Homo sapiens: one gene and its partners. The protein of the gene in region 1 interacts with the protein of each later gene in a biochemical or structural test. Each region holds a gene or a part of one and is shown in the gene's direction. Other genes may lie near its edges. The genes, in order: GJA1, CSNK1D, UBQLN4 and MAPK7.

What was found.
Region 2: of the proteins of GJA1 (region 1) and CSNK1D, one has a biochemical effect on the other in vitro, tested with the Homo sapiens proteins (one study listed by BioGRID).
Region 3: the proteins of GJA1 (region 1) and UBQLN4 form a complex in vitro, tested with the Homo sapiens proteins (one study listed by BioGRID).
Region 4: of the proteins of GJA1 (region 1) and MAPK7, one has a biochemical effect on the other in vitro, tested with the Homo sapiens proteins (one study listed by BioGRID).

What each region holds. Positions count from the first base shown.
Region 1 is NC_000006.12:121,445,646-121,450,227, forward strand, and holds the end of GJA1 (gap junction alpha-1 protein), read left to right. Parts: intron 1-1,186; 5' UTR 1,187-1,202; coding exon 1,203-2,351; 3' UTR 2,352-4,082; downstream 4,083-4,582. UniProt on the Homo sapiens protein: Gap junction protein that acts as a regulator of bladder capacity. A gap junction consists of a cluster of closely packed pairs of transmembrane channels, the connexons, through which materials of low MW diffuse from one cell to a neighboring cell.
Region 2 is NC_000017.11:82,270,624-82,278,311, reverse strand, and holds the start of CSNK1D (casein kinase I isoform delta), read left to right. Parts: upstream 1-4,611; 5' UTR 4,612-4,930; coding exon 4,931-5,006; intron 5,007-6,209; exon of another isoform or gene 6,210-7,688. UniProt on the Homo sapiens protein: Essential serine/threonine-protein kinase that regulates diverse cellular growth and survival processes including Wnt signaling, DNA repair and circadian rhythms. It can phosphorylate a large number of proteins.
Region 3 is NC_000001.11:156,036,799-156,043,798, reverse strand, and holds part of UBQLN4 (ubiquilin-4), read left to right. Parts: intron 1-885; coding exon 886-1,025; intron 1,026-1,421; coding exon of another isoform or gene 1,422-1,439; exon of another isoform or gene 1,440-1,546; intron 1,547-1,562; coding exon 1,563-1,646; intron 1,647-1,811; coding exon 1,812-1,927; intron 1,928-2,127; coding exon 2,128-2,314; intron 2,315-6,668; coding exon 6,669-6,821; 3' UTR 6,822-7,000. UniProt on the Homo sapiens protein: Regulator of protein degradation that mediates the proteasomal targeting of misfolded, mislocalized or accumulated proteins.
Region 4 is NC_000017.11:19,381,412-19,384,044, forward strand, and holds the end of MAPK7 (mitogen-activated protein kinase 7), read left to right. Parts: coding exon 1-275; intron 276-369; coding exon 370-1,055; intron 1,056-1,401; coding exon 1,402-1,535; coding exon of another isoform or gene 1,536-1,539; intron 1,540-1,666; coding exon 1,667-1,820; 3' UTR 1,821-2,133; downstream 2,134-2,633. UniProt on the Homo sapiens protein: Plays a role in various cellular processes such as proliferation, differentiation and cell survival. The upstream activator of MAPK7 is the MAPK kinase MAP2K5.

The sequences.
Region 1 (4,582 bases):
TTTTTAATAAGGCTGTGAGTAGTATTGAGACAAAATGAACTTTTTACATGAAGTGTGATGTGTATTTAGTCTTTGTTTTTCAAAGTAGGTTACTACATATAATGACACATTGTAGCAAAAGAGTATATTTCCATACAGCCTACTTTTTCTCTGGACAGAAGGCTGACTTCTGAGCTACATAAGTCACTGCTTAAGAAAAAAATAGTCACCATTGCTTGGGAGGCTAAGGCAGGAGGATTTCTTGAGCCCAGGGGCCTGGGCAACATAGTGAAATCCTATCTCTAAAAAAAGAAACAGAAAAGTGTAAATGACAATAATATAGGGTATGCACAAATTACACTTGATATACCATTGAAAAATCTTCCAGAGGCCAGGCGTGGTGGCTCACACCTGTAATCCCAGCACTTTGGGAGGCTGAGGTAGATGGATCACCTGAGGTCAGGAGTTCGAGACCAGCCTGAGCAACATGGAGAAACCTCATCTCTACTAAAAATACAAAATTAGCCAGGCGTGATGGCACATGCCTGTAATCCCAGCTACTTAGGAGGCTGAGGCAGGAGAATCGCTGGAACCTAAGAGGCGGAAGTTGTGGTGAGCTGAGATTGTGCCATTGCACTCCAGCCTGGGCAACAAGAGGGAAACACCATCTTAAAAAAAAAATCTTTCAGAGTGAAATTAGTAATAAAATGATATATAATAGCATTAAGGTTTTGGAAAGAAGGTTATGGATGTGTGTTTATAGGTATTCTTACCTGGATTCTTGATACCTATGCTTTGAATAACACACATCAGGATTTTGCTTAGCAAACACAGATCTACCAGGCAAAAACTGTCCTCATTTATCAGACAAATAAAAGGAGCAGAGGCTTAGCACAGGTGGCTTCTCAAGTCACACAGCAAGGCAGTGGTTGAGCAAGCAATACACCTTCCCAGGTTAAAGACTGCAACTCATCATCTGTTGCTTCTAAGACTTACTTTGTCTCAACAAACAAAACAAAACACTTGTTAGATCTTTTCTTCGTTGGCAAAAATGGGACAGGAAGAGTTTGCACTTGGTTTTTTGTGAAAGAATGTTAGAAATACGTGAAACCGTTGGTAGTATTTTGACTATCACCTGAAAGGTACTAAATGTTAAACTAGTAATTTGCAATCTGTGATCCTTGAATTGTCTCTTTGTTTCTTTCAGGTGGTGCCCAGGCAACATGGGTGACTGGAGCGCCTTAGGCAAACTCCTTGACAAGGTTCAAGCCTACTCAACTGCTGGAGGGAAGGTGTGGCTGTCAGTACTTTTCATTTTCCGAATCCTGCTGCTGGGGACAGCGGTTGAGTCAGCCTGGGGAGATGAGCAGTCTGCCTTTCGTTGTAACACTCAGCAACCTGGTTGTGAAAATGTCTGCTATGACAAGTCTTTCCCAATCTCTCATGTGCGCTTCTGGGTCCTGCAGATCATATTTGTGTCTGTACCCACACTCTTGTACCTGGCTCATGTGTTCTATGTGATGCGAAAGGAAGAGAAACTGAACAAGAAAGAGGAAGAACTCAAGGTTGCCCAAACTGATGGTGTCAATGTGGACATGCACTTGAAGCAGATTGAGATAAAGAAGTTCAAGTACGGTATTGAAGAGCATGGTAAGGTGAAAATGCGAGGGGGGTTGCTGCGAACCTACATCATCAGTATCCTCTTCAAGTCTATCTTTGAGGTGGCCTTCTTGCTGATCCAGTGGTACATCTATGGATTCAGCTTGAGTGCTGTTTACACTTGCAAAAGAGATCCCTGCCCACATCAGGTGGACTGTTTCCTCTCTCGCCCCACGGAGAAAACCATCTTCATCATCTTCATGCTGGTGGTGTCCTTGGTGTCCCTGGCCTTGAATATCATTGAACTCTTCTATGTTTTCTTCAAGGGCGTTAAGGATCGGGTTAAGGGAAAGAGCGACCCTTACCATGCGACCAGTGGTGCGCTGAGCCCTGCCAAAGACTGTGGGTCTCAAAAATATGCTTATTTCAATGGCTGCTCCTCACCAACCGCTCCCCTCTCGCCTATGTCTCCTCCTGGGTACAAGCTGGTTACTGGCGACAGAAACAATTCTTCTTGCCGCAATTACAACAAGCAAGCAAGTGAGCAAAACTGGGCTAATTACAGTGCAGAACAAAATCGAATGGGGCAGGCGGGAAGCACCATCTCTAACTCCCATGCACAGCCTTTTGATTTCCCCGATGATAACCAGAATTCTAAAAAACTAGCTGCTGGACATGAATTACAGCCACTAGCCATTGTGGACCAGCGACCTTCAAGCAGAGCCAGCAGTCGTGCCAGCAGCAGACCTCGGCCTGATGACCTGGAGATCTAGATACAGGCTTGAAAGCATCAAGATTCCACTCAATTGTGGAGAAGAAAAAAGGTGCTGTAGAAAGTGCACCAGGTGTTAATTTTGATCCGGTGGAGGTGGTACTCAACAGCCTTATTCATGAGGCTTAGAAAACACAAAGACATTAGAATACCTAGGTTCACTGGGGGTGTATGGGGTAGATGGGTGGAGAGGGAGGGGATAAGAGAGGTGCATGTTGGTATTTAAAGTAGTGGATTCAAAGAACTTAGATTATAAATAAGAGTTCCATTAGGTGATACATAGATAAGGGCTTTTTCTCCCCGCAAACACCCCTAAGAATGGTTCTGTGTATGTGAATGAGCGGGTGGTAATTGTGGCTAAATATTTTTGTTTTACCAAGAAACTGAAATAATTCTGGCCAGGAATAAATACTTCCTGAACATCTTAGGTCTTTTCAACAAGAAAAAGACAGAGGATTGTCCTTAAGTCCCTGCTAAAACATTCCATTGTTAAAATTTGCACTTTGAAGGTAAGCTTTCTAGGCCTGACCCTCCAGGTGTCAATGGACTTGTGCTACTATATTTTTTTATTCTTGGTATCAGTTTAAAATTCAGACAAGGCCCACAGAATAAGATTTTCCATGCATTTGCAAATACGTATATTCTTTTTCCATCCACTTGCACAATATCATTACCATCACTTTTTCATCATTCCTCAGCTACTACTCACATTCATTTAATGGTTTCTGTAAACATTTTTAAGACAGTTGGGATGTCACTTAACATTTTTTTTTTGAGCTAAAGTCAGGGAATCAAGCCATGCTTAATATTTAACAATCACTTATATGTGTGTCGAAGAGTTTGTTTTGTTTGTCATGTATTGGTACAAGCAGATACAGTATAAACTCACAAACACAGATTTGAAAATAATGCACATATGGTGTTCAAATTTGAACCTTTCTCATGGATTTTTGTGGTGTGGGCCAATATGGTGTTTACATTATATAATTCCTGCTGTGGCAAGTAAAGCACACTTTTTTTTTCTCCTAAAATGTTTTTCCCTGTGTATCCTATTATGGATACTGGTTTTGTTAATTATGATTCTTTATTTTCTCTCCTTTTTTTAGGATATAGCAGTAATGCTATTACTGAAATGAATTTCCTTTTTCTGAAATGTAATCATTGATGCTTGAATGATAGAATTTTAGTACTGTAAACAGGCTTTAGTCATTAATGTGAGAGACTTAGAAAAAATGCTTAGAGTGGACTATTAAATGTGCCTAAATGAATTTTGCAGTAACTGGTATTCTTGGGTTTTCCTACTTAATACACAGTAATTCAGAACTTGTATTCTATTATGAGTTTAGCAGTCTTTTGGAGTGACCAGCAACTTTGATGTTTGCACTAAGATTTTATTTGGAATGCAAGAGAGGTTGAAAGAGGATTCAGTAGTACACATACAACTAATTTATTTGAACTATATGTTGAAGACATCTACCAGTTTCTCCAAATGCCTTTTTTAAAACTCATCACAGAAGATTGGTGAAAATGCTGAGTATGACACTTTTCTTCTTGCATGCATGTCAGCTACATAAACAGTTTTGTACAATGAAAATTACTAATTTGTTTGACATTCCATGTTAAACTACGGTCATGTTCAGCTTCATTGCATGTAATGTAGACCTAGTCCATCAGATCATGTGTTCTGGAGAGTGTTCTTTATTCAATAAAGTTTTAATTTAGTATAAACATAGCTTCTATATTCCGTGTGATTTGTTTCCCCTGCCGAGATGGAGTCTTGCTCTGTCACCCAGGCTGGAGTGCAGTGGCGCGATCTCGTCTCACTGCAACCCTTGCCTCCCGGGTTCAAGCAATTCTCCTGCCTCACCCTCCCGAATAGCTGGGATTACAGGCACCGCCACCGCACCTGGCTAATTTTTGTATTTTTAGTAGAGATGGGGTTTCACCATGTTGGCCAGGCTGGTCTGGAACTCCTGACCTCGTGATCCGCCCACCTCAGCCTCCCAAAGTGTTGGGATTACAGGGGTGAGCCACCGCACCTGGCCTATATTTAAAACTCATTGACGGCATCTATTTGAGATTATTTAAACACATTTCTATTGGTTATCAGAACTTCAGCAAATAACAGTCATGTTTTCAGGGACAATATTTATCATTAGCTCTGTTCAGTGCAACATAAATTGTAAACATTTTTGGATATTTATTGAACCAAAAGGAAGATAAAGTGTTGAA
Region 2 (7,688 bases), on another chromosome or scaffold:
ACGTACATGATGTGCATGCCCGTGTAGTGTCTGTGCATAAATGCACAAACACATGCAGACACATGCACACATCCATTTCTAACATGTCCATACACTCACAATACACACGTCTGCATGCAAGTGTGCGCAGGTGCCGACTTACACAGAGTGCTGCTTGACATGGTACCCCTCCCCTTCCCCGCCCTGTCTGAGATCTGGGATCTGTTTCATTCGTTGTTCACGAGGAGGCCTTCCTGGCCCCTTCCTGGCTGGGCTCAGGGTGTTAGACTCGGAATCCTCCCACACTCACAGACGCCTTTCTTTGCCCTGCCAGGCAGATGGTGTCTGTGCCAGGCACGAGTCCTGGGAGCCGTCTCAGCTGTCTGAAGATGTTTTTCTGCAGCTTCCGGTTACATGTAAGCCGCTATCTCAGTCTGTTCATGCTGCTGTAACAAAACACCATGGACTAGGTACTTATAAAGAACAGAAATTTATTTCTCACAGTTCTGGGGGCTGGAAAGTCCAAGATGAAGGTGCTGGCATGTTCAGCGTCTGGTCAGGGCCTGGTGTCTCCTCCCGAGATGACAGCTTGTTACAGCATCCTCCAGAGGGGAGGAACATGGTGTCCTCACACAGCAGAGAGACAAAAGGGGAAAAGGGACCAAACTCCCTCCATCAAGCCCTTTCACAAGGCACTGAGCCATTCACGAGGGCGGGGCCTCACGATCCAAGCCCCTCTCCAAAGTGCCCCCTCCACTGACGCACTAGGCAGGTCAGTCTCTAACACACGCTTTTGGGAGGTCACGGGCAGGGGACAGCAGAGTCCCAAGCCAGTCTGATTCTTTCCTTTTGTTGTTGTTGTTTGTTTGTTTTTGAGACACAGTCTCGCTCTTGTTGCCTGGGCTGGAGTGCAGTGGCAGGATCTCTGCTCACTGCAACCTCTGTCTCATGAACTCCAGCAATTCTCTTGCCTGGCCTCCTGGGTAGCTGGGACTACAGGTGCACGTCACTACGCCTGGCTAATGTTTGCATTTTTAGTAGAGACAGGGTTTCACATGCTGGCCAGGCTGGTCTCAAACTCCTGACCTCAGGTGATCCACCCACCTTGGCCTCTCAAAGTGTTGGGATTCCAGGCATAAACCACCGCGCCCAGCCTGATTCTTTCCCTTTGTTAGCAGATTCTTTCTAAATGGGTATCTGTAAACTTTCCTCTTTCTCTGTTTCTATAGTTTGGGTGTTGGTCCCCTTCAAACCTCAGGTTGAAATCTGAGCCCCAGTGTTGGAGGTGTCTGGGTCATGGGGGCAGATTCCTCACGAACAGTTTGGTGCTGTCCTCTTAGTAATGAGTGAGTTTTCACTCCTACTAGTTCCAGCAAGAGGTGCTTTTAAAAACACCTGCACGGCCGGCACGGTGCCTCATGCCTATAATCTCAGCACTTTGGGAGGCTAAGGCGGGCGGATCACGAGGTCAGAAGTTCAAGATCAGCCTGACCAACATGGTGAAACCCCGTCTCTACAAAAATACAAAAATTAGCCGGGCATAGTGGCGCATGCCTCTAATCCCAGCTACTCAGCAGGCTGAGGCAGGAGAATCGCTTGAACCCGGGAGGCGGAGGTTGCAGTGAGCCGGCATTGCGCCACTGCGCTCCAGCCTGGGCAACAGAGCGAGACTCCATCTTAAAAAAAAAAAAAAAGGCCTGTACTTCCCTACTCCTCCAGCTCCCTCTCGCACACGGTCTGCACACACTCCAGCTGCCCTTCACCTTCTGCCATGAGTGGAGGCAGCGGCAGCAAGGCCCTCACTAGAGGCAGACGCCCGATCTTGAACTTTTGAGACCTCAGCATCGTGAGCTGTGTTAGGCTGTGGTTGCCTTGCTATAAAGAAATACTTAGGACTGGGCAATTTTAAAAGAAAAGAGGGCCGGCATGGTAGCTCATGCGTGTGATCCCAGCACTCTGGAAGGCCAAGGTGGATGGATCACTTGAGCTCAGAAGTTTGAGACCAGTCTGGGCCAGTAAGACCCCATGTCTACAAAAAATATGAAAAATTAGCCAGGTATGGTGGCGTGTGCCTGTAGTCCCAGCTACTCAGGAGGGTGAGGTGGGAGGATCACCTGAGCCCAGGAGGCAGAGGTTGCAGTGAGCCGAGATCACGCCACTGCACTCCAGCCTGGGCAACAGAGCGAGACCCTGTGTCAAAATAAATAAATAAATAAATAAATAAATAATGAAAAGAGGTTTACTTGGCTCCTGGTTCTGCAGGCTTTACAGGAGGCATGGTGCTGGCCTCTGCTCAGCTTCTGGGGAGGCCTCCGGAAGCTTCCAATCATGGTGAAAGGCAATGGGGGAGCGGGCACGTCACATGGCCAGAGCAGGAGCGAGCGAGCGAGTGAGCGAGAGAGAGAGGTGCCCCACACTTTTTAAATAACCAGATCTCAGGAGAACTCACTATCTCAAGGACAGCACCAAGGGGATGGTACTAAACATTCCTGAGAAATCCACCCCCATGACCCAGCCACCTCCAGCCTTGGGGTTTACAATTCAACATGAGGTTTAGTGTGGACAAATATACAAATTACCTCATGATTCTTCATAAATTTCCCAGCCTCAGGTGTTTCTTGATAGCAACAGTAAAGGAGCTAAGACACTGTGGCGTTCAGTTGTATCAGGACAGACCTGGGTGTGGGCTGGCCCTCATACGTCCTGCCGGGAGCTCTGGGGGCTTTCCAGTCTGCAGGTCGGGACGTCCTTCTACTCTGAGATGTTCTAGTATCATCAAACCGCCCCACAGACCATGCCTGGAGACTCTGCCTCACACATCCGTTCCCAGCGGTCACCAGCCCCGCATCCCTCCCTCGTCACCGCATCTGTGCGTCTCCTCTGTGACGGAGGCTGTTCCTTGGCAATGACTATCCTCAGCTTCAGCCCCCTGCTGACAGTTTTCTAGCTCAGAACCTGGCCATGTCTGCACCCTCCCTGTCTTCTCGGAAGGGGTGCTGTCATTCCCTGGGCTACACACCTGCTTTGTCCTCCTCTCTCTGACCCCAGGGCTCCAGGGTACCACTGTCCTCTTCCTTTGTCAGTTTGTTGTGGCTGGGGCTGGTGGTGGGGGAGCCACAGCAATCAGCCTGCCTCACCTTGCCCAGCCCGCATGTTCCCAGGGCTCCTGCCATCCCCACTACACCACAGCCCAGTCCGTGTGCACGGGTTATAGAGTCAAGACACAAACACACAAAAGCCAGGCAGACGGGCACAGTACCTGCCGCAGCTGCATGAAGCTTGGGGCACTATGGGTGAGAAGAGCTAGAAATGTTGGGGCCATCAGAGCCCAGGAGGACCAGCCGAGGGAGGAGCAGCTGACAGGTGGGCAGGTGCCCCTAGTCAGGGACAGCAGGACTCCCCAGGAAGAAGGATCACAGCCACCCGTGGGAGAGCTGGACTCTGTTCATCAACAGAAAAGCCGTGAGCGATTCCGCCAACAAGGTCAGTTTTACTAGTCTGGCAGCCCCCCACCCCCGGCTTCTGTAACTCAGAAACTGGGCAGTTCCGACTGCCCATCCCTCATTAGTGACTGATGGTGGTCTGGCCGGCGGCATCTCCTGTCTCCAGGCCCTGCTATGTAATTTCGGGAATGGACGCCCGTCTCCCCGACCTGACCTCCAGCTGTTTGGAGCTGAGGGGTGGAGAGGAAAGACTGGGGGGTGGAGAAAGGCGAGCACCACTGTGGGGCCTGTGGGGGCTGCTTTCCTCTTCTGCAGTGACCTGGACGGGCTGAGGCTGCTGTCTCACTCACACGGCGGTGCCCACACCACAGCCCTGGTATGCTAATGCGTCAAAACACACCTTCACCTGTTTCACATTCTTGAGTTTCAGCGAGGATGCGACAGGTCTCGAGACACATGGACGTGGGACCATGGGGACGGGTTCTTCAAGGTCCCCATGCACCTGCAGCCTGGGGGGGCTTGTCTGAAGGGCTTTCTTCCCAGTGATGGGAATCAAAGGCCCCGATCTTTGAAGCTGGCCATCAGCCTGAACGTCCACTCCTTGTTTCCTTTGCAAGGAGGAACATTCAGATCCAACACAGATAAGAATGTTGACTCCGTCTCCAGGCCGCAGGGACTGGAGGGAGGCAGGTGGTCTGGCCTCATTTTGTGAAAGGTGGTGGCTTTGTCCTCAATCTTCAGGCTGGACATCAGGACCTCCCAGGGCGCGGGCCTGCTCTGTCTCTGGCCTTAGGTGTCAGGAGGTAAGGCCGCAGACGCTGACGTACTGGGATGCCCCAAGCCCGGGAACTGGCAGCCCAGTGAGGGGGTCTCACCTGTGTCCCCTGAGCCTGGCCTGTCACTCTGTCCACGCCTCAGCTACCTGTCCCCTCCTGCAAAGGGCACCGCCTGTCGCGAGGAACTCACCTGGCTTCCTCGACATCTCGGGGGACACACGAAAAGCCCCCGCGAGAGCAGCAGGAGCCTGCACGTGGAAGGGGCTGGCGGCCCGAGGTCCCGGGGTAACAGGAGGGCAGAGGGGCTGGGCACGGCGCAGGGTCGGGAGGAGGCCTGGAGCGCTCGCCCCGCCCGGCCCCGCCCCTGGAGCGCCGCGGCCCCGCCCCGCCGGGTTGCTAGGGGAAGTGACGTCACAGCGCGATGGCGGCGGCTCCTTTAGGCAGCTGAAAGGGGATTTAGGCCCGGAAGATCCGAGTCCATCCGCGGCGGGGAGAGGGCAAGCGGGACCGGTAGGGGCCGGAGCAGCGGCGGCGGCGCTCGGACTGTCCCATCCGCCCCGTATTGAGGCGCTGGGAGCGGCGGGGCGACAGGAAAGCGATGGTGAAAGCGGGGCCGTGAGGGGGGCGGAGCCGGGAGCCGGACCCGCAGTAGCGGCAGCAGCGGCGCCGCCTCCCAGAGTTCAGACCCAGGAAGCGGCCGGGAGGGCAGGAGCGAATCGGGCCGCCGCCGCCATGGAGCTGAGAGTCGGGAACAGGTACCGGCTGGGCCGGAAGATCGGCAGCGGCTCCTTCGGAGACATCTATCTCGGTGAGGCCCCGCCGCCCCCGCCCGCCGCCCGAAGACCCGGGCCCTGCGGCTGCCAAGACCAAGCGCGATCGCGGAAGGAAGTGGTGGCCCCCGCGGGGTCTCCGCGCAAGTCCCGGCACCGCCGGATCGTGGCCAGAACCCAACGGCCACTAGGCTAGCGCGGCCAGGGGTGGGGAGGGCAGTGGGGAGCGGACGTGGGGGAGGGGCAGGACCAGGTCGGGGGAGCAGGGTCTGGAGAGGGGAGGGTTGGGGAAGGAGGGGATAGGGGAGCTGACCCGGGGTGGGGCATGGTCTCTGGGGAGCCGACCTGGGTAGGGGCAGGGTCGTGGGGAGCGGACTCGGGAAGGGCTGGGTGGGGCGTGGGGAGGCGGGCCTGGGGGAGGGGCAGGGCGGGGGTGGGGGCAGCGGGCCGTGGGAGGGGAGGGGGTAGGGCTGGGGCCGCGAAGCGGGCGTCGGCTTCCTCTACGCCTAAGGTCACCGCAGTAAACAAAGGCCACGCTCTTTCTTCCGCAGCCCGGTCCGGGGCTGTCTGGCTGCCCCCTCAGAGGCTGCCCCGGTGTCTTGCATTCGTGGGGGAAAATGTCAGAAAGACCCAAATGCCGTGTGGAGCGGGGGAGTGGCCCGGCTAGGAGTGGGGCTTGCCCTCCCGCTGGGGGTTCTCTCTGAACGGTTCCCCTTGGCCTTGGAGCGGTGACTGAGTGCAAATGAGCAAGGGTTAAGTTTAGGTGAATGTAGAGAAAGTCACACAGGATTAAGATGCTGGCAAGATGAGAGGCAGATGAGGTAGTTGTACTCATGAGGTGTCCTTTAGACTGTAACAGTCTCAAGGTAGATTTCAAAAACAATGGGATTAGAAGGTTTTGGGTTGTGTCATATTTACAATGGAAAAATATGCACGTGAACACAAGTGTGATGAAAGGTTGGCTTAAATCTTCAAGTTTGTAATTTTTTTTTTTTTCCTGAGACGGAGTTTCGCTCTTGTTGCCCAGGTTGGAGTGCAATGGCGTGATCTCGGCTCACCGCAACCTCTGCCTCCCAGGTTCAAGCGATTCTCCTGCCTCAGCCTCCCGAAAAGCTGGGATCACAGGCGTGCGCCACCACGCCTGGCTAATTTCGTATTTTTAGTAGAGACGGGGTTTCTTCATGTTGGTCAAGGCTGGTCTCGAACTCCGGACCTCAAGTGATCCGCCCAGTTCGGCCTCCCGAAGTGCTGGGAAGCCACCGCGCCTGGCCCAAGTTTGTAATTTTAAAGTAACTTAATTTTCCGCACTTGTTAGTGGGATTGTGCAATGCACGAGTTATTCCAAGATCCCCTGAATTTGAGGATATGTAGCCTGAGGCGGTGTGCCTGCAGAGGGGCTGCTGCAGACCTTTGAGGGGAGCTGTTTTCTGTTCCAGCAGCCCTAGCTTTGGGGTGTGTTTTAACTGGGGCACCTGTCAGCTAGGGTCAGGAATCCCCTGGGATGTCAGTAATGCCTCTGGTCATACCTTTTAGATGAAGCCACATGTGGACAGTCTCCAGTTCTCACACCCTTCCCACTTGTCACCAGAGAGAGGACTCAGGACCCGGTGGGCTGACAGCGTTAGGACGAATCCACACATATGGGTGGCTCATACTTTCGGTGCCTGGTTAACCTGCCAGGTGACCCTGTCACATGCCATATTGTTGCTTTTGAACCTGTACATATGCCTTAGTGGACTGCTGAGTAAGCAGGCTTTAGACATTTGGGTTTGGCTATTAAACATTTATACCAGGTGGTCAGCTGGATGTGTTCTTGGCAGTGTTTGGGAAGTCAGAGTGCTTGGTCAATGGAAGTCGTTTGGCTTATTTATAGAACAATGGATTTTGGCGAAAGTTTTAACCCCAGGATCTGAGTTACACTGCAAAGCCAGTCCATTAGCCACCTTTAGGCAGGCATCAAAAAGGAGTATTTTGGGCCGGGTGTGGTGGCTCACGCCTGTAATCCCAGCACTTTGGGAAGCTGAGGTGGGCGGGTCGCTTGAGGTCAGGAGACCAGCCTGGCCAAAGTGGCGAAACCCCATCTCTACTAAAAATACAAAAATTGGCCAGGCGTGGTGGTGGCTGCCTGTAATTCCAGCTACTTGGGAGGCTGAGGCACGAGAATTGCTTGAACCTGGGAGGCGGAGGTTGCAGTGAGCCAAGATCACACCACTGCACTGCAGCCTGGGCGATGGAGTGAGACTCTGTCTCAAAAAATAAATAAATAAGAAGTACTTTGAAACTATCTGTTCTCTGATCTGAGACCTTGTCAAACAACTTTGTGCTTTCCAAAGATAGATTAAGACAAATTTTGGTGTGGTTGTCACCAAGTAATTCCAGAGGTGGAGGGTGGAAGGCTGTCTCCTCACTCAGCATTCTACCCTCCAGGCCTCACCTCGCGCTGGGCATACAGTCATGCTGGATACGGGATTGCGGGCGGCTGTGGCTCTGACACCCTGGGGTTGGAGCCCCCAGACAGCCGTCCCAGACAGCCACCCATCAGGGTACACGTCCAGTTACTTGAGTGGGGTTAGGCACAGCTGATTTTTTTTTTTCCCATCAGCATTGGCTCCTAGCCTACACTGTGGTCCTTTCAGACGACCCCACGGAGGAAAGGCGAGGTGGTCACGTTAGCCGGAGTAAGGCAGTTTGAAAGAAGCGTGGGTCTGAGCAGAATGGCA
Region 3 (7,000 bases), on another chromosome or scaffold:
AAGTAATAGCTCATGAGTAAACCAGGCCCCACTTCCTAAGCTCCATGAGCACCTCTGGTATTATCCAGTGTAAAAGGTTCAGACTGCTGTGGGGAGAGGGGGCTGGAGAGGAATCAAGGCAGACCTGGGGAGAGGCAGATGTGAGGCTGGGGGAAAGGGATGTGCAGGGCTTGCCATGTACAGAAGAACAGGTTATGCACTGCACAACCCTAGAGGATGCTCCATTTATCTGGACTATGACTGTACACATGGCCTGGGGGATGTCTTCAGCAGATGCTCTAATTTCTCTGCACTCTGGGGGATATCTTGATTGGGAAAGTTCCTTCCCTCTGTGTGTTTTAGTTTCCTTATTTGTAAAGTAAGGACTGGAACTTGATCCATGATTTTAAAATTGTGCTCCTGCATCCTGGAAAGGTCTTCATCTCCAGGATGAGGAAGGACCCAATGGGAGAGGCTGCAGCCCTCCTGCCCCAGCTCCAGCCAGACCATTAACACACTTGGTTTCTGAGTGAGATTTAGCATGAGGAAAGGGTCTCTGCTGCTAAGACAAGTTTGATCTAGATGATATTTAATCATTTCTTTCCAAATTGGACATAATTTGAGCTTATGGCAGGAACAGTCCAGAGAGGCATAAATCAGACCCAGTTCCTAGCTGGCTTGTCCTTATCAAGTAAATGGAAAAGGGGCCAGGCCAAAGCAGGGCAAGATGACCTTGGACTTGGGAGAGACTTGGACTCATGCCACAATCCTAGGGTGCCCACTGGACCATTGCTTTTCTGAGTTTTGTAGTCATTCGGTGTCTGAAGTAAGGTAGATTGAAGTGAGGCCTTCGGTTTCCATCTGGACCCTTTCTCTCCTGTTTTCTTTTTTTCCGCCTTGTCCTAGGGATGTTCAATAGCCCAGAAATGCAAGCCCTCCTCCAGCAGATCTCTGAGAACCCCCAGCTGATGCAGAATGTGATCTCAGCACCCTACATGCGCAGCATGATGCAGACGCTTGCCCAGAACCCCGACTTTGCTGCTCAGGTATGAAACCAGCATGAGGAGAGTATTGTTGGGGAGAGAGTTCCTCTTGGTTGGGGGCAGTTTCTTGTGGTCAAAACACTGTGGAGCCAGACTGCCTGGGTTTGCATCCCAAGCTCTGCTGCTTCCCAGCTGTGTGAGTTAAGCAAGTTATTTAGCCTCCCAGTTTCTTTATCTGTAAGATGATAATAACAATAGTTCCTACCTCCTATAGTTGTGAGGATTAAATGAGTTAATACACGTTAAGTGCTTAGAACATGGCGTGTGACAGAGTAAGTTCTGTATACCTGGAAATGTTAGCTGTCCTCATCATCATCAGACCCAGGGCTGAGCAGGCTGACTCCTCATACTCTTCATTACCCAGAGCATAGTTCCATTTCCTCTCACTGTCCCACTTAGGCCTTCAGGATACTTTGAGATCCCCGGAGAAGCTGGCCAGATTTCCTGCAGTGGTAGGGGGTGCCCAGGGAGTCTGAGGCTGTGGGGGAATTCTTAGGGTGAAAAGGCCCAGGTCTCCCCCTGCTACCTTCACCCTGGCAGATGATGGTGAATGTGCCGCTCTTCGCGGGGAACCCCCAACTGCAGGAGCAGCTCCGCCTGCAGCTCCCAGTCTTCCTGCAGCAGGTGAGTGAGGAGCCTAGATGGGTGGAGGTTGAGGGCAAGGGGTAGTCCCTGAAGCCCAATGGGTGGAAATGAAGTTGGGGCAGAGCTTGACTCTGGACTCCTAGTTGAGGTTGTCTCCTCTTTCCTGCCACCTCTTGATGCCTTTCTCTGCTTATTTCCCACCAGATGCAGAACCCAGAGTCACTCTCCATCCTTACCAATCCCCGAGCCATGCAGGCATTGCTGCAGATCCAGCAGGGACTACAGACCTTGCAGACCGAGGCCCCTGGGCTGGTACCCAGGTGAGGGTAGGGGGGCAGGAGGGCAGCAAGGTTCTAGCAACTTCTCCCCTTCAACTCTTCTCTCTGCCACTCTCTCAGCATCCTTTGTGTCTCTGAGGGTCTGTTTTCCTGTTTCTTCCAACTGCTTTTCCTTCTGGATCTCACATTCTCATCCCTTTCTTGGATGCCATCTCCTACCTCTTGGTCTCTCTTGCCTACAGCCTTGGCTCCTTTGGGATATCCCGGACCCCAGCACCCTCAGCAGGCAGCAACGCAGGGTCTACGCCCGAGGCCCCCACTTCCTCACCAGCCACGCCAGCCACATCTTCTCCAACAGGGGCTTCCAGCGCCCAGCAGCAACTCATGCAGCAGATGATCCAGCTTTTGGCTGGAAGTGGAAACTCACAGGTACATGAGGCAGTGGGGGCAGGTGCTGGGAGCACCACTTTGATCCTGGGAGGTTTCAAGGGAAGCAATAGAATAGAGGCAGTAGGGCAAGCTTGGGAGTCAGGTCCTGTTCTGCCACTTGCTAGCCTTGGGCAGGTTACTGATGCTCCCTGAGTTCAGTTTGTGCAGATGTGAAATAGAGATGAGAAGAGTAATGGTACTTACCCGTGCACTACATACTGTTCTAAATGCTTTAGATTTTGGAGCTCATTTACGACTCATTTACCACATTCCTCACAATAGCCTCATGAGAAAGCTATTATTATTATTTCTGTGTTAAAGATGGGGAAAACTGAGGCCCGGAAAGGTTAAGTGGCTTACTCACTTACATAGCTAGTAGATAATGAAGCCAAGACTCAAACCCAGGCATTCCACCTCCAGAATTTACACTATACCATTTCTGCTTATATCAAAGGATCCTTTTGATAATTAAAGCAGCCCCCATCTCTGAGACTCTGGGGAGGGGGATTCTGCGAGGTAACCAAAGCCCTGGGAAAGTCAAGGCCAGGGGCTGGCAGGAGGGGCAGGGATGACCTACCTCGAGTGAGCCTCTTAACCTTTCTCTGACCTCTGTGACTCATCTGGAAAAGCCATTCAACCAAAATGTATGTTTACCCAGCTTTGTGCAAGGCACGAGAGAGCTAAACTAGGTGGTGTCCAGTCCAGGTGCAACCCAAGTTAAATTCTGTGGACTGGCTGGGCGCGGTGGCTCACGCCTGTAATCCCAGCACTTTGGGAGGCTGAGGCGGGCGGATCACGAGGTCAGAAGATCGAGACCATCCTGGCTAACACGGTGAAACCCCATCTCTACTAAAAAATACAAAAAAAAAAAATTAGCCAGGCGTGGTGGCAGGTGCCTGCAGTCCCAGCTACTCAGGAGGCTGACGCAGGAGAATGGGGTGAACTCGGGAGGTGGAGCTTGCAGTGAGCCAAGATGGCGCCACTGCACTCCAGCCTGGGTGACAGAGCGAGACTCCATCTCAAAAAAAAAAAAAAAAAAAAAATGTGTGGACTGTGATAAGAAGCAACAAGGAGCACTGGAAAGGGCTTTCTTTTTTTTTTTTTGAGACAGAGTTTTGCTCTTGTTGCCCAGGCTGGAGTGCAATGGCGCAACCTCTGCCTCCCAGGTTCAAGCCATTCTCCTGCCTCAACCTCCCGAGTAGCTGGGATTACAGGCACGCGCCACCACACCCGGCTAATTTTTTTGTATTGTTAGTAGAGATGGGGTTTCACCATGTTGTCCAGGCTGGTCTCGAACTCCTGACCTTAGGTGATCTGCCTGCCTCGGGCTCCCAAAGTGCTGGGATTATAGGCGTGAGCCACCACACCCGTCCAGAAAGGGCTTTTATACTGCAAGTCAGGGGGCCTTAGTGACTGACTTTCTCTGTGACCCCAGGCAAGTCCTGTCTTTTCTCTGGATCGAACATTGTTCCTTTCAACACCAGGTGGACGGTGCTTGCTGGACTCTTTCTAGCTATAAGAGTCTTTTTTTTTTTTTTTTTTTTTTTTGAGACGGAGTCTCGCTCTGTCGCCCAGGCTGGAGTGCAGTGGCCGGATCTCAGCTCACTGCAAGCTCCGCCTCCTGGGTTTAGGCCATTCTCCTGCCTCAGCCTCCCGAGTAGCTGGGACTAAAGGCGCCCACCACCACGCCCGGCTAATTTTTTGTATTTTTAGTAGAGACGGGGTTTCACCATGTTAGCCAGGATGGTCTCGATCGCCTGACCTCGTGATCCACCTGCCTCGGTCTCCCAAAGTGCTGGGATTACTGGCGTCAGCCACCGCACCCGGCCACTATAAGAGTCTTTTGTTCATAATCAAGGCTTGTGCTTTCCAAATACCCCTTGGGCAAACATTTACAGGAGATAATTAGAGGAATGACAAGAATGAAAAGCCAAGCTAGCCAGGCGGTGGCTCACTTCTGTAATCCCAGCAATTTGGGAGGCCGAGGCAGGCAGATCACCTGAGGTCAGGAGTTCAAGACCAGCCTGACCAACGTGGAGAAACCCCGTCTCTACTAAAAATACAAAATTAGCTGGGTGTCGTGGCGCATGCCTATCATCCCAGCTACTCGAGAGGTTGAGGCAGGAGAGTCACTTGAACCTGGGAGGCAGAGGTTGTAGTGAGCTGAGATCGTGCCATTTTACTCCAGCCTGGGCAACAAGAGTGAAACTCCATCTCAAAAAAAAAAAAAAAAAAAAAAGCCAGGCCAGGAGTGTGGCTCATGCCTGTAATCCCAGTGCTTTGGGAGGCCAAGGCAGGGGACTGCTTGAGGCCAGGAGTTCGAGACCAGCCTGGGCAACGCGGGGAGACCCAGTCTGTAAAAATTTTTTTCTTTTAAAAAAAGTCTTAGTGCAAGCTGGGCATGGTGGCTCATGCCTGTAATCCCAACATTTTGGGAGGCCAAGGCGGGTGTATCACTTGAGGCCAGGAGTTCAAAACCCACCTGGCCAACATGGTGAAACCACGTCTCTACTAAAAATACAAAAATTAGCCGGGCTTGGTGGCATGCACCTGTAATCCCAGCTATTCAGGAGGCTGAGGCAAGAGAATCGCTTCAACCCGGGAGGCAGATCATGCCACTGCATCCAGCCTGGGTGACAGAGCGAGACTCCGTCTCAAAAAAAAAAAAAAAAGAAGAAGACCTAGTGCAGTGGCTCATGCCTGTAATCCCAGCAGTTAGAGAGGCCAAGGCAGGAGGATCACTTGAGACCAGCCTGGGCAACATAGCAAGACCCTTTCTCTGCTAAAAAAATTTTTTTCTTTATTTTTTATTTTATTTTTATTTTTTTGAGATGGAGTCTCACTCTGTCCCCCATGCTGGAGTGTTATGGCACAGTCTCGGCTCACTGCAACCTCCGCCTCCCGGGTTCAAGCGATTCTCCTGCCTCAGCCTCCTGAGTAGCTGAGACTACAGGCTCCTGTCACCATGCCCAACTAAGTTTTGTATCTTTAGTCTCGGGGTATCGCCATGTTGGCCAGTCTGGTCTCGAACTCCTGACCTCAAGTGATCCACCTGCCTCAGCCTCCCAAAGTGCTGGGATTACAGGCATGAGCCACCACGCACTTTTGTTTTTTTAAGATGTACTCTGTCTTCCAGGCTGGAGTGCAGTGGCGCAATTTCAGCTCACTGCACCTCCGCCTCCCGGATTCAAGTGATTCTTCTGCCTCAGCCTCCCAAGTAGTTGGGACTACAGGCATGCGCCACCACACCTGGGTAATTTTTTGTGTTTTTAGTAGACATGGGGTTTCGCCATGTTGGCCAGCCTGGTCTTGAACTCCTGACCTCAGGCAAACTGCCCATCTTGGCCTCCCAAAGTGCTGGGATTATAGGCATGAGCCACTATGCCCAGCCAAAAAAAAATTTTTTTTTAATTGGCTGGGCAAGGTGGTACACACCTGTAGCCCCAGCTACTCAGGAGGCTCAGAGAGAAGGATCACCTGAGCCCAGGAGATAGAGGCTGCAGTGAGCTATGATTCTGCCACTATATTCCAGCCTGGGTGCAAGACCCTGTCTCAAAAAAAAAGGAAATACTTCTCTTTTATAAATAACTGTTGATCAGTGAAACAAAATTAAATAGCTTCTTAACTGGGACCCTTCTCTAGCCTTTCATATGGCTGTACGTGTGATGACTATTAGGAGGGGCCTTGGAGGTCATGCTTAGTATGCATCTTATTTGACCATAGAACATTTGGCTTTTGGAGTGCCTGTTAACATCTCCAGTGTTTATGGAAAGTAATGAGGAATATATGCTGATCTAGGCCTATCAGTTATCTTGAAAATCTAAAAAAGATATCCGCCTGCCATATTATTACACAGTTTTGTTTGTTTGTTTTTTTGTTTTTGTTTTTTGAGACAGAGTCTCGCTCTGTTGCCCAGGCTGGAGTGCAGTGGCGCGATCTCGCCTCACTGCAAGCTCCGCCTCCCGGATTCACGCCATTCTCCTGCCTCAGCCTCCTGAGTAGCTGGGACTACAGGGCGCCCACCACCACACCCAGCGAATTTTTTGTATTTTTAGTAGAGATGGGGTTTCGCCGTGTTAGCCAGGATGGTCTCGATCTTCTGACCTCGTGATCCGCCCGCCTCAGCCTCCTAAAGTGCTGGGATTACAGGCGTGAGCCACCGTACCCGGCCATTACACAGTTATTTAGGACTTGGGACCTAGGCTCCTGGGCCCCCATTTGCAGCTCATCTTCCCTGCCCTCCTGATTGACTCTGAGGATATTAGAGAAGACCTGCTGGTCTTAGAAACCCTTAATTCAAATAGGGCCCCCAAGATTGGTCCTGTGCCCACTTCACAAGGCCTGTCCCCTCCAGGTGCAGACGCCAGAAGTGAGATTTCAGCAGCAGCTGGAGCAGCTCAACTCCATGGGCTTCATCAATCGTGAGGCTAACCTGCAGGCCCTGATTGCCACAGGAGGGGACATCAACGCAGCTATCGAGAGACTGCTGGGCTCCCAGCTCTCCTAATCCCTCGGCCCATGCCTCCTGCCTCTCCCCTCCCTCGATGTCAGCATTCGGTTCTTCTGTCAATCCTTACCCTCTGCAGCTTGTCCTCCCTTCCGTCTTCTCCCTCATCCTTTCCAAACAGCAGGGTGACTTTAGAGGCATGGGCTCCAACCCCTTAGCTCTGTCTGAGAATTATGGTT
Region 4 (2,633 bases), on another chromosome or scaffold:
CCAGCCTTCTCTACAGCCTGTGGCTAGTGAGCCTGGCTGTCCAGATGTTGAAATGCCCAGTCCCTGGGCTCCCAGTGGGGACTGTGCCATGGAGTCTCCACCACCAGCCCCGCCACCATGCCCCGGCCCTGCACCTGACACCATTGATCTGACCCTGCAGCCACCTCCACCAGTCAGTGAGCCTGCCCCACCAAAGAAAGATGGTGCCATCTCAGACAATACTAAGGCTGCCCTTAAAGCTGCCCTGCTCAAGTCTTTGAGGAGCCGGCTCAGAGGTGCCTTGTGGGCAGGTCGGGTGGGCAGAGGGGAGACTTGGACTTGGACAAGGCTTCAGGCTTTTACCTTCTCCCCTGCCCAACTTCCCCGCAGATGGCCCCAGCGCACCCCTGGAGGCTCCTGAGCCTCGGAAGCCGGTGACAGCCCAGGAGCGCCAGCGGGAGCGGGAGGAGAAGCGGCGGAGGCGGCAAGAACGAGCCAAGGAGCGGGAGAAACGGCGGCAGGAGCGGGAGCGAAAGGAACGGGGGGCTGGGGCCTCTGGGGGCCCCTCCACTGACCCCTTGGCTGGACTAGTGCTCAGTGACAATGACAGAAGCCTGTTGGAACGCTGGACTCGAATGGCCCGGCCCGCAGCCCCAGCCCTCACCTCTGTGCCGGCCCCTGCCCCAGCGCCAACGCCAACCCCAACCCCAGTCCAACCTACCAGTCCTCCTCCTGGCCCTGTAGCCCAGCCCACTGGCCCGCAACCACAATCTGCGGGCTCTACCTCTGGCCCTGTACCCCAGCCTGCCTGCCCACCCCCTGGCCCTGCACCCCACCCCACTGGCCCTCCTGGGCCCATCCCTGTCCCCGCGCCACCCCAGATTGCCACCTCCACCAGCCTCCTGGCTGCCCAGTCACTTGTGCCACCCCCTGGGCTGCCTGGCTCCAGCACCCCAGGAGTTTTGCCTTACTTCCCACCTGGCCTGCCGCCCCCAGACGCCGGGGGAGCCCCTCAGTCTTCCATGTCAGAGTCACCTGATGTCAACCTTGTGACCCAGCAGCTATCTAAGTCACAGGTGAGAGGGAGGCCCAGGCCATGGGGACACCTGGGTCTGGGCCAAAGGAAAATGGGTTCAGGAAGCGGTCAGTGTTCCACAAAAACTGAGCAGCAGATGGGGCTTTATCTCTGAACGTGTCCTCTTGCTCACAGAAGGAGCATAATGGCAATGAAGAGGTTGTTAGGAGACAAGTTAAATATGGCCTGCAAAGTGCCTAGCCCAGAGATGGGGCCAGCCAGCACTCACTGACTGCCGAGACTGGTGTTAGCACTCCCAGATATCCAGGCGGAGTAGTCAGCAGCATTGGGACAGGGTGGCCTACAGACCTCAGTCTGTCTGCATTGTAACCTGTCATTCCCTGCAGGTGGAGGACCCCCTGCCCCCTGTGTTCTCAGGCACACCAAAGGGCAGTGGGGCTGGCTACGGTGTTGGCTTTGACCTGGAGGAATTCTTAAACCAGTCTTTCGACATGGGCGTGGCTGATGGGCCACAGGATGGGTAAGGTGGCTGGACTGAGCTCCTAGACTGGGACTGTGGGGAGAGGTTCCTGGTGCAGGAGACATGCACCTGTGGGATGGGTGAGGGTCCAGCCTAGGCTAATAGCACCCCTCCCTTTCCTTCCCCTGCAGCCAGGCAGATTCAGCCTCTCTCTCAGCCTCCCTGCTTGCTGACTGGCTCGAAGGCCATGGCATGAACCCTGCCGATATTGAGTCCCTGCAGCGTGAGATCCAGATGGACTCCCCAATGCTGCTGGCTGACCTGCCTGACCTCCAGGACCCCTGAGGCCCCCAGCCTGTGCCTTGCTGCCACAGTAGACCTAGTTCCAGGATCCATGGGAGCATTCTCAAAGGCTTTAGCCCTGGACCCAGCAGGTGAGGCTCGGCTTGGATTATTCTGCAGGTTCATCTCAGACCCACCTTTCAGCCTTAAGCAGCCACCTGAGCCACCACCGAGCCATGGCAGGATCGGGAGACCCCAACTCCCCCTGAACAATCCTTTTCAGTATTATATTTTTATTATTATTATGTTATTATTACACTGTCTTTTTGCCATCAAAATGAGGCCTGTGAAATACAAGGTTCCCTTCTGCACCTGACTCCAGGTGTAATTTTTGGAGTTCGGGGTAGGACACCATCAGCAGGGGAGCAAGGAGGAGCCAGGTGCCTACATTTGGGGGATAAACAAATATGTTTGTGTGTATGAAGCCAGTTCATTCAGGTTCTGAAGGTTTATTGAGACCTTCAGTCCCTACCCACTCCCAGCCCTGCAGAGATTGTCCTCTGCTCCCTCATGTGGCTAAACCTCTCAACACCCAGAGGGTATGGGGAAGACCTCATATGCATGCCTACCTTGGCTGTGGCTGTTTCAGGGTGGTGTGCGGTAGCTGTGTTCTTGGCATAGAGCTTCAGGGGCTGGGATGGGCCATCAGGGGAAGCTGAGTATGATAGTGAGGTGGGCTGGGGTTCCACGGTACTCACCACAGGGGAGTAAGTTGGTGGGAGGGATGCTGAAGATGGGACATGGTTTGAGAGCAGCCCAGAGGAGTGCTGGGCTGTGGCCTAGAATACACCATGGGCCCTGTTCACACTGCACTGC